3 linked regions of the Homo sapiens genome follow. The protein of the gene in region 2 interacts with the protein of the main gene of each other region in a biochemical or structural test. Each region holds a gene or a part of one and is shown on either strand. Other genes may lie near its edges. The genes, in order: CARD11, ZNF599 and GRIP2.

Evidence for each region.
Region 1: the proteins of ZNF599 (region 2) and CARD11 interact in a test that uses a peptide from one of them, tested with the Homo sapiens proteins (one large-scale study listed by IntAct).
Region 3: the proteins of ZNF599 (region 2) and GRIP2 interact in a test that uses a peptide from one of them, tested with the Homo sapiens proteins (one large-scale study listed by IntAct).

What each region holds. Positions count from the first base shown.
Region 1 is NC_000007.14:2,911,310-2,914,963, reverse strand, and holds part of CARD11 (caspase recruitment domain-containing protein 11), read left to right. Parts: intron 1-1,497; coding exon 1,498-1,677; intron 1,678-2,667; coding exon 2,668-2,792; intron 2,793-3,654. UniProt on the Homo sapiens protein: Adapter protein that plays a key role in adaptive immune response by transducing the activation of NF-kappa-B downstream of T-cell receptor (TCR) and B-cell receptor (BCR) engagement.
Region 2 is NC_000019.10:34,760,385-34,763,359, reverse strand, and holds part of ZNF599 (zinc finger protein 599), read left to right. Parts: intron 1-2,800; coding exon 2,801-2,975. UniProt on the Homo sapiens protein: May be involved in transcriptional regulation.
Region 3 is NC_000003.12:14,488,565-14,492,086, forward strand, and holds the end of GRIP2 (glutamate receptor-interacting protein 2), read right to left. Parts: 3' UTR 543-3,522; downstream 1-542.

The sequences.
Region 1 (3,654 bases), on a different chromosome or scaffold from region 2:
TCACGCCTGTAATCCCAGCACTTTGGGAGGCCGAGGCGGGCAGATCACAAGGTCAGGAGATCGAGACCATCCTGTGAATGGTGAAACCCCGTCTCTACTAAAAATACAAAAAGTTAGCCGGGCGCGGTGGCGGGCGCCTGTAGTCCCAGCTACACTGGAGGCTGAGGCGGAAGAATGGCGTGAACCTGGGAGGTGGAGCTTGCAGTGAGCCGAGATCCCGCCACTGCACTCCAGCCTGGGTGACAGAGCGAGACTCCGTCTCAGAAAAAAAAATAAAATAAAATAAATAAATAAATATATATATATATAACTATAAAATATATAAAAACATTAAAATAAAAACATAAAGCATTAAAAATAAATCTTAAAATATGTAAATAGCTAGGCATGGTGTCACGTGCCTATGGTCCCAGCCACTTGGGAGGCTGAGGTGGGAGGATCACTTGAGCAGGAGTTTGAGGCTGCAGTGAACCAAGATAACATCACTGCAGTCACTCTGGCCTGGGCCATACAGCAAGACTCCTAGCTCTAAAAATAAAAATAAAAGACAAAAAGAAATTAAAACGGTGAGGGAGCCTGGCCTTGGCTGTGAGGACCATGCTGCCTCGGGGTGACATCCCGCCAAGCTCACCCAATAACGACGCTCTCGTGTGGTTGCTTCGCTCCCGGGTACCCGTGTTAATTGGGGCTGTTTGCTGTGAAGTGTTCGTTTTATTGATTTCTCTACCCACTGAGTGCCACTTGCCATTTATCAACCCGGCGAGGGGCCTCCCGGTCCACCGTCCCCCACCCCGCTGGCCCTGGCTGGCCCTGCTCAGGGAAAGGGAAGCCACACAGCCCTGGCTGGATCTCAAAGGAGGCCTTGGGGCGGCTTCCCGGGCTGGCCCTTTGGACGTTGGAGTGGCCAGGCCAGGGTACAAGAAAAGGCACAAGGGACAAGGGACAGGCTGCCCGTTTCTGGGAGCTGTTTCCTCGGGCTGCCTGGGGGTGGCTTCATCAGAACCCCGGGCTTCTGTGTGGCTCTGCCACTCCAGCCACAGAGGGACTGAGAAAGCAGAACTGAGGCCAAGTCGTCCCTCCCAGTGCTCCTGGGAGACACCCAAGGCCTTGGCCGCTGGTCCTGGTGTCTCGTGGGTGCCTGCCGGCACTTGCTTTCCTTGCCCTCGCCCTCCCCTCCGCTGGGCTGTACCCAGTCCCTACCCTTCCTCCAAGAAGCCCTCCTTGATCGTCTGACAAGGCAAACTTTCCCTCCAGAGCTCAGCCAAGGTTCCTGCATTTGTCACACACTCTGCCTGCCCCCCACCACACCTCCCCTCCCTGGCACACAAGCCCCAAGCAGTGCCAGCCCGAGGTGACCTCAGACACTGGATGCCCGGGGCAGCAGCCAGGCCTTCACACTGACGGTGGCTTCCAGGACCCAGCCCAGGGGCCCCGTCCTCCGTGGAAGGTCTTCGGAGCCCCAGGGGTCTGACCGCCACCCTCTCCTGCCCCTGCCAGAGCTGGACCCTGAGAGCGAGCTGGGCAAGAACCTCAGCCTCATCCCCTACAGCCTGGTACGCGCCTTCTACTGCGAGCGCCGCCGGCCCGTGCTCTTCACACCCACCGTGCTGGCCAAGACGCTGGTGCAGAGGCTGCTCAACTCGGGAGGTGCCATGGAGTTCACCATCTGCAAGTCAGGTGAGCGGCGAGCCACGGCCACCTGGGGAGCCCCGCGGGAGCCATGAACCAGGACGACTTCCCCTCTTCTCTTCCCTCCTCCCCTCTTCTCTTCCCTCCTCCCCTCTTCTCTTCCCTCTTTCCTCCTCTTCCCTCTTTCCTTTCCTTCCTCCTCCCTTCTCCCTCTTCTCTTCTCCCTCCTCCAACTTCTCACTCCTCCCCTCCCCCTCCTCACTTCCCTCCTCCCCTTTCCTCCCCTCCTTTTCTTCTTCCTCATCCTCCCCTCCCTCCTCCCTCTTCTTCCCTCCTCCTCCTCCCCATCACCCCTCCTCCCCCTGGATAGGTGGATGGATGGATGGAAGGATGGCTGAATGGATGATGGGTGACTGGGTGGGTGGACAGATTGATAGATAAATGGGTGGGTGGATGGATGGATGGAAGGATGGGTGGGTGGATGGGTGAGTGGGTGGATGGATTGGTGGATGGATGGATGGATGGATGGATGGATGGATGGATGGATGGATAGGTGGGTGGATGGATGGATGAGTGGATGGATGGATGGATGGATGGATGGATGGATGGATGGATAAGGGGATGGGTGGATGGGTGGATAGGTAGGTGGACAGATGGGTGGGTGGGTGAGGGGTCGGTAGATGGGTGGGTGGATGGATGGGTAGGTGGGTGGGTGGGTGGAACAGGAGATTTATTTAGACTGGTGATCAGCCTTGCACCACGGTGCCTGAGCTGCTTTGTCCAGTGAAAGGTATTGCTGAGGTGCCAAGCACCTGCTCTATGGGCTGCCATGGGGAGTATGGAGAAGGTTAACCTTAGCCCTGCCCTCAAGGAGCTTCACAGTCTAGTCGAGGGGAGACGAGATTCATTTAAACATGGCTGGAAGGGGATCGGACATCGAGTTCTGTAGAGCCCAGAAGGTGGCAGGCAGGGCCTGAGTGGGATGGTCAACCCAAGGCCACCTCGTGCTGCCCTCAGGACTGGCCCCTCTCTCTGCAGATATCGTCACAAGAGATGAGTTCCTCAGAAGGCAGAAGACGGAGACCATCATCTACTCCCGAGAGAAGAACCCCAACGCGTTCGAATGCATCGCCCCTGCCAACATTGAAGCTGTGGCCGCCAAGGTGAGGCGGGGACTGGGAGGTTGGATGGGGCCAGGACCCTCCGTGATGATCCTCATGAGGCCACCTGGGCCAGGGACAAGGGTGGGATGAAGAGTTGTTTTCACCTCCCCGTGGCCAGACCTCTCCTTTTCCCCTTGTCCCAGCAGCTGCCCCGTGTTAACTCCCTCTCTGCACCCTTGTTCCCTGGGCTCTGAAGTGAGTTTTTATTTTGGAGCTTTCTATTTGTGTTGGCTTCCTGGAGCTGGTGTGTGTTCGCATTATTTAGGAGTGTGTGTGTCTGGTTGTGATAACAAGGGCCAGAGATAGAGAACGAGCTCATCAGGGCGAGAGACAGGATGAACATGAAGGTGACAGGTATTGCATTCACCAAACGAGGGGAAAACGGGGCATCACAAGGGTTATTGGCAACGATGCAAAAAGGTTGTCTGTGTGCAATGTGGAGTCTTTGGAGCCAGACAATGTGACCTAAGCGTTGAGCTCTTCCTCGTCCCAGCACTGGATGAAGAAAAGGCTCTCTGTCCGCGTCACTGGAGGGCTCCCCCAGCTGCCGGGGGCTGGCTCCGTGGTGGACGCTGACCTTGGGGATGGCAAGAGCAGATGGTGGTGTTTTTGTTTTTTTTAAGTCTGGGCCACAGCAGTTTAGGAAATTCTGATAGCTGGCGTGGATAGAAAGTGAGCAGACAGGGTTGGAGCTGAGATTGTTTTTAGCTGAAAAGAAGAAGCCTTCCAGCAGATCTGTGCTGTAGAAATGTGGGCCATGGTCCTATTGGTGGGGAATGGGGAGCAGTGGCCCCGCAGGAGGCCCAAGGAGACCCTGGGCGAGGGGGGTCATTCCCACCTCCAGACACGAGTGCTAGACTGC
Region 2 (2,975 bases):
TGTCCCTAGGTGTGCAGAATTAGAAAAATTATAAATAATGATTTATGACACATTGTCATCATTAGTCAATGCGTGTCCTGGTTTTTTGTTTTATTTTCTTTCATTGCATTTTATTAATATATTTATTCATCCTCCTTTAAAAAGATTGTAATGAACACCTACAAACCTTTCGCCAAGTACAAGAACATGACCTGCTTCCTGCATCTGTTGATGTGTTTCTTTCCTTTCCCATTCCTATGCTGCCTCCCTTGCATACATGGCCACTTTAAGATTTGTTATTCCATTGCTTATTCTGTAGGAAGATTCAGGTTTTTTTCATAAATATAGGCTATTCAGATGTTCTGTTTTTGTTTGTCCGTTTTGGTAATTTGAGTAATGTAAAATATTTGCCTACTTTATCTTTGTCTTCCCATTACTTTTTAAGATTGTTTCATCTCATAATGGTAAATTTTGTATTTTATCACAATAAAAAGTCAGAAAAATATATTTAACATATCTACATATCTTTTTATAATGCCATTTAAAACTGATAAACCTCAAAAAAATAAAAGGTTGTTACATTGTATTCTTGTGTGTGTGTATTTTGCTTTTTTTGAACATTATAAAAAGTGTATTGTGGTTTATATTGTCTTCTGGCATTTTCACTCTTTATTCAACAGTAAGTTACTAACATTCATGATGCATATAGCTGTAGTTCACTCATTTTTTTTCCTGCTAGAGTCAATTGCATGAATATAACACAATGTATTTATCCATTTTCAGGGAGAGCTTGAAAATGTTTGCTTATTGTTTTTTGTTATCACAAACAATGCTGCCATAATTCATATATATGTGTCCTCAGGCACATCTATAGGAGTTTCTCTTAGTAAAGTTCCTTGGACTGGCATTTCTGGATTATAAGATGAGCAAAAGGAGAATTTTACTAGATAATGCTCTGTTGTTTCCTAAAATGGTTATACCCATTTCACTTCCCTTGCCTTATCTGAATGATTTCATAGAACAACTTCCTCTTCAATAGTTGATGTTGTCCGGTCCTTTAGTTTTTTCAACCTAGCGAGTATAAAATGGGGCATCTCATTGTGGTCCTAATTTGTTTTTCCCCTATTACCAAGAAAGGTGAACACTTCTTATGTTGACTGGGCAATGTATGTCTTCTGTGAAATATCAGTGCATAATATGTTCATTTTGGGGTAGAGTGAAGTTCCCAACCATAATTCTGAGTTTATTTCTCCTTTCAACTCAGTTTTTGGTTCATGTATTTTGAGGCTCTGGTGTTTGGCACATACAGATTTAAGACGATTTTGTCTTCCTGGCGCCATGGTCTTCTCTTCATCTTGTGAAGTCCCTCTTTGTCTCATTTGCTTAGGTCTATAGTTTGCTATCTGATACTAATGTTATGTTTTTTATTTGTTTGCTTTTTTGTTTATTATATTTACTCTAGTCAAATTGACTACTCTTTTCATTTATGATTAATGCTTTTATATCTTGTTCTGGAAATCTTTCTCAAAAGATACTCATTTTTATTATATACAAAATATGTTTAATGTTTAGCTTCTGACAGTTGAGTCTTAATCACTCTGGAGGTAATTCTGTATGTGGTATGAGGTAGGAATATTATTTCATTTTTCTCCATGTGGCAAATAATTTTTCTAGATCCATTTATTGAATGGTTCCTCCTTTTCCCAATGGCCTTCTCTGCTGCTTCTATCATATATCAAAGTTACATATATACATTTCTGAGTTCTCTATTTCATTTTTCCCTTTCACCGTTTGTCTTATATCTATGCCTAATCACACTGCCTGAATGCATATAGTTTCATCATAATACTAAGTCCTCATAGGGTAAGGCCCCTGCTTTATTCTTCAGAGTTATCCTGGTCTCTATATCAGCTGACTGATCTCTATCCACAGTCAGCTTGTCAATATCTGTGAAAAACCCTATTGAGATTTTATCTGATGTTGTATTGAATTTAGAAGTGAATTTAGGGAGAACTGATAACTTTATATTGATTAATCTCTTTTCATATAGATCTTTAGTGTCTTAAGTTTTACAATTTTCTTCATGTAGATCTTACCTATTTTGTGTATGTTCACTTAGTCTTTATTCAGACATTGCAGACTCATTATGTTCATCTAGCTGGTTCTCACCCTTCTCACTTTTACACAGGTGAGAATCCTGAGAGTCTGTTTCTTCTCTGTCTCTGCCTGCCTTTCCATCCTCATCTCCATCATGTCATCCCATTTACATTACTCAGCAATCAGCATTCTCTCAAGACTTTCAGCCCTTGTACATTCTGTTTTCATCTGCCGAAGTTTCCCTCCTAATTCCTCTGTCTGGGAACTCCTACTCTCCTTTTTAAAGAAAGCCCACGTAGCTCACCTTTTCTTGGTGCTGTGATCCAAGACATCCTCTGATCCCTCTCTGTCTCTCATCTGGGCCATGTTAAGTGTATCCTCCCTACATTGTCATAGCACCATGAGACTGCCTCTGTCAGAGCACATTCATCACACACATTGTAATTATTAGTCTGCCCACTCTCCCTCATTTGGGAGAGTGAGGAGCGGTCTCCATTCCAGATTCTTTGCCCCCTGCCCTTGCTTTTCCTTCTGGGTTTCCTTTTAAAGATCTCAAGAGTCCAAGCATTAGGAAAGAAATTGCAAGCCTGGTTTTGAGAGATGTAAAAATGCAGTAGGCATCAGAGACACTGTTTTCACCTTCATTCTTCTGCTAAAGTGGTGATTTTGTTTGTTCTGTTGACATCACTAATGTTCAGTTTTTTTTATATTGGATTTCCTTCAGGTGAAAAAGCAAAACCCAAGATTACAGAGCCTACTGCTTCTCAGCTGGCCTTCTCTGAGGAATCCTCTTTCCAGGAACTTCTGGCACAGAGATCCTCAAGAGATTCCAGGTTGGGGCAAGCTAGAGATGAGGAAAAGCTAATAAAAATTCAGGAAGGGAACTTGAGGCCAGGAAC
Region 3 (3,522 bases), on a different chromosome or scaffold from region 2:
CTTCAAGGTGGCCTGAGGTCCCATCCCTCCCTCAGACCCATGTGGTCCCAGGCCAGGCTGCCTGGGACACGGTAAATACCACTGTGTGCAAAAATCGAAGTACAAAACCACAAGACTAAACAAAACAAACCCAGAGAGCCAAACTTGTAGAGGTGGGCAGTCCAGAAAGCAGGGGGCAGCCCTCCCCCTTTCCTTCTCTCCCTGATCCTCAGAATATATATTGTTGTAATAGGAAGCATTTTTGCATTGTTCTCTTGTGGGTGTCACTACAGACATGTTCTGGCGTGTTCTCCGAGGGATGGAGCATCCTGTTATATATTTGACTTCAAATTGAGATGTTGGCTTCATTTTTTTTTTTTACCCAATTAATCTCCCAATCCCTAGCAACTGTGACTCTGTATTTAGCACAAGAGAAAGCTGAGAATGTGGGTCTTGCCTCCTTCCAGAAATATGTCTGGCTCATCAGGACATTTTTTTAAAACTTCAAAATATTTTTAAGATATTTTAAACTTTTATAAAAAAAAAATCAACCAACAAGAGACTTTTCTGAGGAGGAACATTTGTATTTGAACAAGATCCTTGGTGTGTAGTTCAGTCTTGCAGTATACAAGCTTTTGTGTATAAATGTTTTATGATATGATTCCCTGTATTTTGCAGGGGTTTTTTTCTCTTTTGCTTTTTAGATAAATATGTATATCAATATTTTAAATTCATCTTTGCTTTTTTTAGAGGAGTTTGTAATCACCTTATAACATGAAAATAAACATTTCCTTTTTAACATCCAACATGTGTGGGTTGTGTTCTGGTGAGGTATTTCCCCCTCAACGTTTGCCAAACGCTTTACATTTTATAAAGGGCTTCCCGTCCAATCCCAGGACGCTCCTCAAAGGTAGGTATTTTCCCAGGTTAGAGGTTCCCACATGGAGGCTCACAGAGGAAGCAGCTTGCTCACTCAGGGGTACACAGCAAGTCCATGAAAGAACCTGGATTCGCACCCGGGCCCATGAGCTCTTGGCTCTACTGGCTCTACTGATTCTACCTGCTACATGCCCAGCCCTGTACAGCTGGGAGATCTGGCAGCAGTCACCTGAGCCTCAGTTTCCCCATCTGGAATAAACCATTGTCCCCATCAAGGCCACCAGGATGATTGGAGGTGATGCTCTTGGCCTTAGGTGCTCACCTGCTGCGGCTTTCAGTCCCTCCTCTTTAGCCTTGGGCTGACCTGCCAGAAGGGCAGAAAGCGGGTGGCGGAGTGGGGGAAAGGGTAGAGGGGGAGCAAACCTGATTGCCCTTCTCCCACTCCCCCACCGTCAGGTGCAGGCGCTCATTAATACCCAGTTAGGGGCTCTCTGGGGTCACAACAGGTCCATGTTTGGGGCAGCCTTCCTGCCAACAGCGCCCCCCACCCTTTGGGATGGACAAACTCGGGAGTCAGTTGAGCCCTTTGCCCAACTAACCAGACAAAATTCTCAGTAACTCATTTATAGACAATGTTAGAATAGAAGACCACCCTACCCCCATTTTCTGGCTCTTTCTGACAGCCTATGCCTACCTGCCTGCCTCTCTCTATGTGTACTGGGCCATGTGGCTTGTGTTCAAGCCCTGGTTCCATCCCTTACTACCTGTGTGGACTTGGGCAAATTACGTAACCTCTCTGTGCCTGTTTCCTCATCTGTAATGATGGGACAGGAATAGAGCCCACCTCCAAAGGCTATTGGGAGGATCCAGCAAGCTCTTGCAAAGCGCTTAGAGCAAGGCCTGCTGCCTCCCTTGGCCTTCCCCCTGCCTACACCACTCCCAAGACAGAGTACTCGCTTCCTGGAAAGAAGCTCTTCCTCTGCTCACAGAACTGTGGCCTCCCCAGTGGGGCCTGGCCCTGGCCTCTGGGTCCCAGACCCTGTAGCTCACCTGCCCTAGACACTCTCTGGACACTCCAGGGCAGCAGCCAGACCTGAGGCTGCCCTCCTGCCACTACCTTCCCAACCTGGGCTAAAGAGACTCCATATGCAGGCACCACTGCCTGCCTCTGGCTTTCTGCTGCGCAGAGAATCAAATTTGCTCCCCCTACCCAAGCCTTCACGACTGATTCCTGCTACCTCCAACCTAGTCTCCAGCCCCATTCCCCTCCCAGGCCTTCTTTCTCTTCCTTGAGACCGTCAAACTCGTTCCTATCTCAGGGCCTTTGCACTAGCTGTGCCCGCTGCCTGAGACACTCTTCCTCCAGGTCTCCATGGAGGCTGGCTCCTGTCTTCAGGTCTCATTGCAAATGTCGCCTCTTGAGAGAAACCCCTCCTAATATTGTGAGCTAAAGCCCCTCACCCTGGTCCCTCTATCCCGTTACTCCCTTGTTTTCTTTGTTGCACTTGATGCCTTTTGAAATAATTATTTATTTGCTTACTTGTTGATTGTCTGCCTGCCACCAGAATGTGCAGACATGACCTAAATCTGTCTGATTCATGTTGCCCAGGGGCTGGATGATGGAAGCAAATGGCAAACTTTTTGAATTAATGAATCATCAAAAGCAGGTGAGATGTCACCAGACCCATACAGAAGCTGACTCTTGCCAATCCATGATTTTTTTAAAAAGCAAACTTCTACTCTAGGTGGATTTAAATAATTTTATTTTAAAAAATCATCCCCATGGCACCTACCCCCAAGCCACTGCAACCCCTGGTGGGACAAAGACTTAGACGAGGGCCCCAAACAGACCATAAGCGGCCTTTGCAATACAGCCCCTTGTGCTTCCCGAGAGCCCTAAGAAAACCCGATGTAGAAAAATACTTTACAAGGAATGTGTTCTAATCTCAGCCAGAGAAAAATACAGCTTTGGGGGAGAGGGCAGGTGGAAGGGGACATGTCACAGGGGCTGTTCCCAAAATGCATAGGCAGGCAGGGCGCTCACTGGGGAAAGGTGTCAGGAAATTTCAAGTCGGGGATGAACCATCCCCATGAGAAGCCAGAAGAAATATTGCATATGAGGAGGCCGGCATGGCTGGGAGGCCCACCGCGGGCCTGATTGCATACTTTTGGGAGAATGGCAGAGGCCTCAGCCCGAGGAGGGAGGGGGGTATTAGTTAGAGTCGGGTGCATCTTCCCTCGCCTGGAGTCCTGGAGTCAATGCAGTTTTCCCAAGCCGAGAGGCCCTGAGAGTGTGTCCTGTCCAGCCCTGTTGCTTAGCAGAGGTCCAGAGAGGCTGAGCCACCTGTCCAAGGTCACACAGCTATGGCTGCTTGCATCCAGAAGCCACACCTCTGCTGTGCTGTCCCTCACCCTCAAAAGTGAGGGCTCTTGGCTTTCACTTGGTGCCCTGTGACAGGTAGACAGTGCCCTTTCACTCTGGGCTGAGTACACGGGAATCCAAGATAGCAGAGGCGCTGAGCACCCCAGGCACAAGCATGCAGGGCCCTCAGGGAGGGCACCAAGGGGCAGAGCCCAGCGAAGTGGAGGGGAGGGGTAAGGGAGGCAGGCCTCCAGGAGACAGCGTGGGCAGGTCCCCAAGGGGGCCTTGGTGGGTCGGCAGAG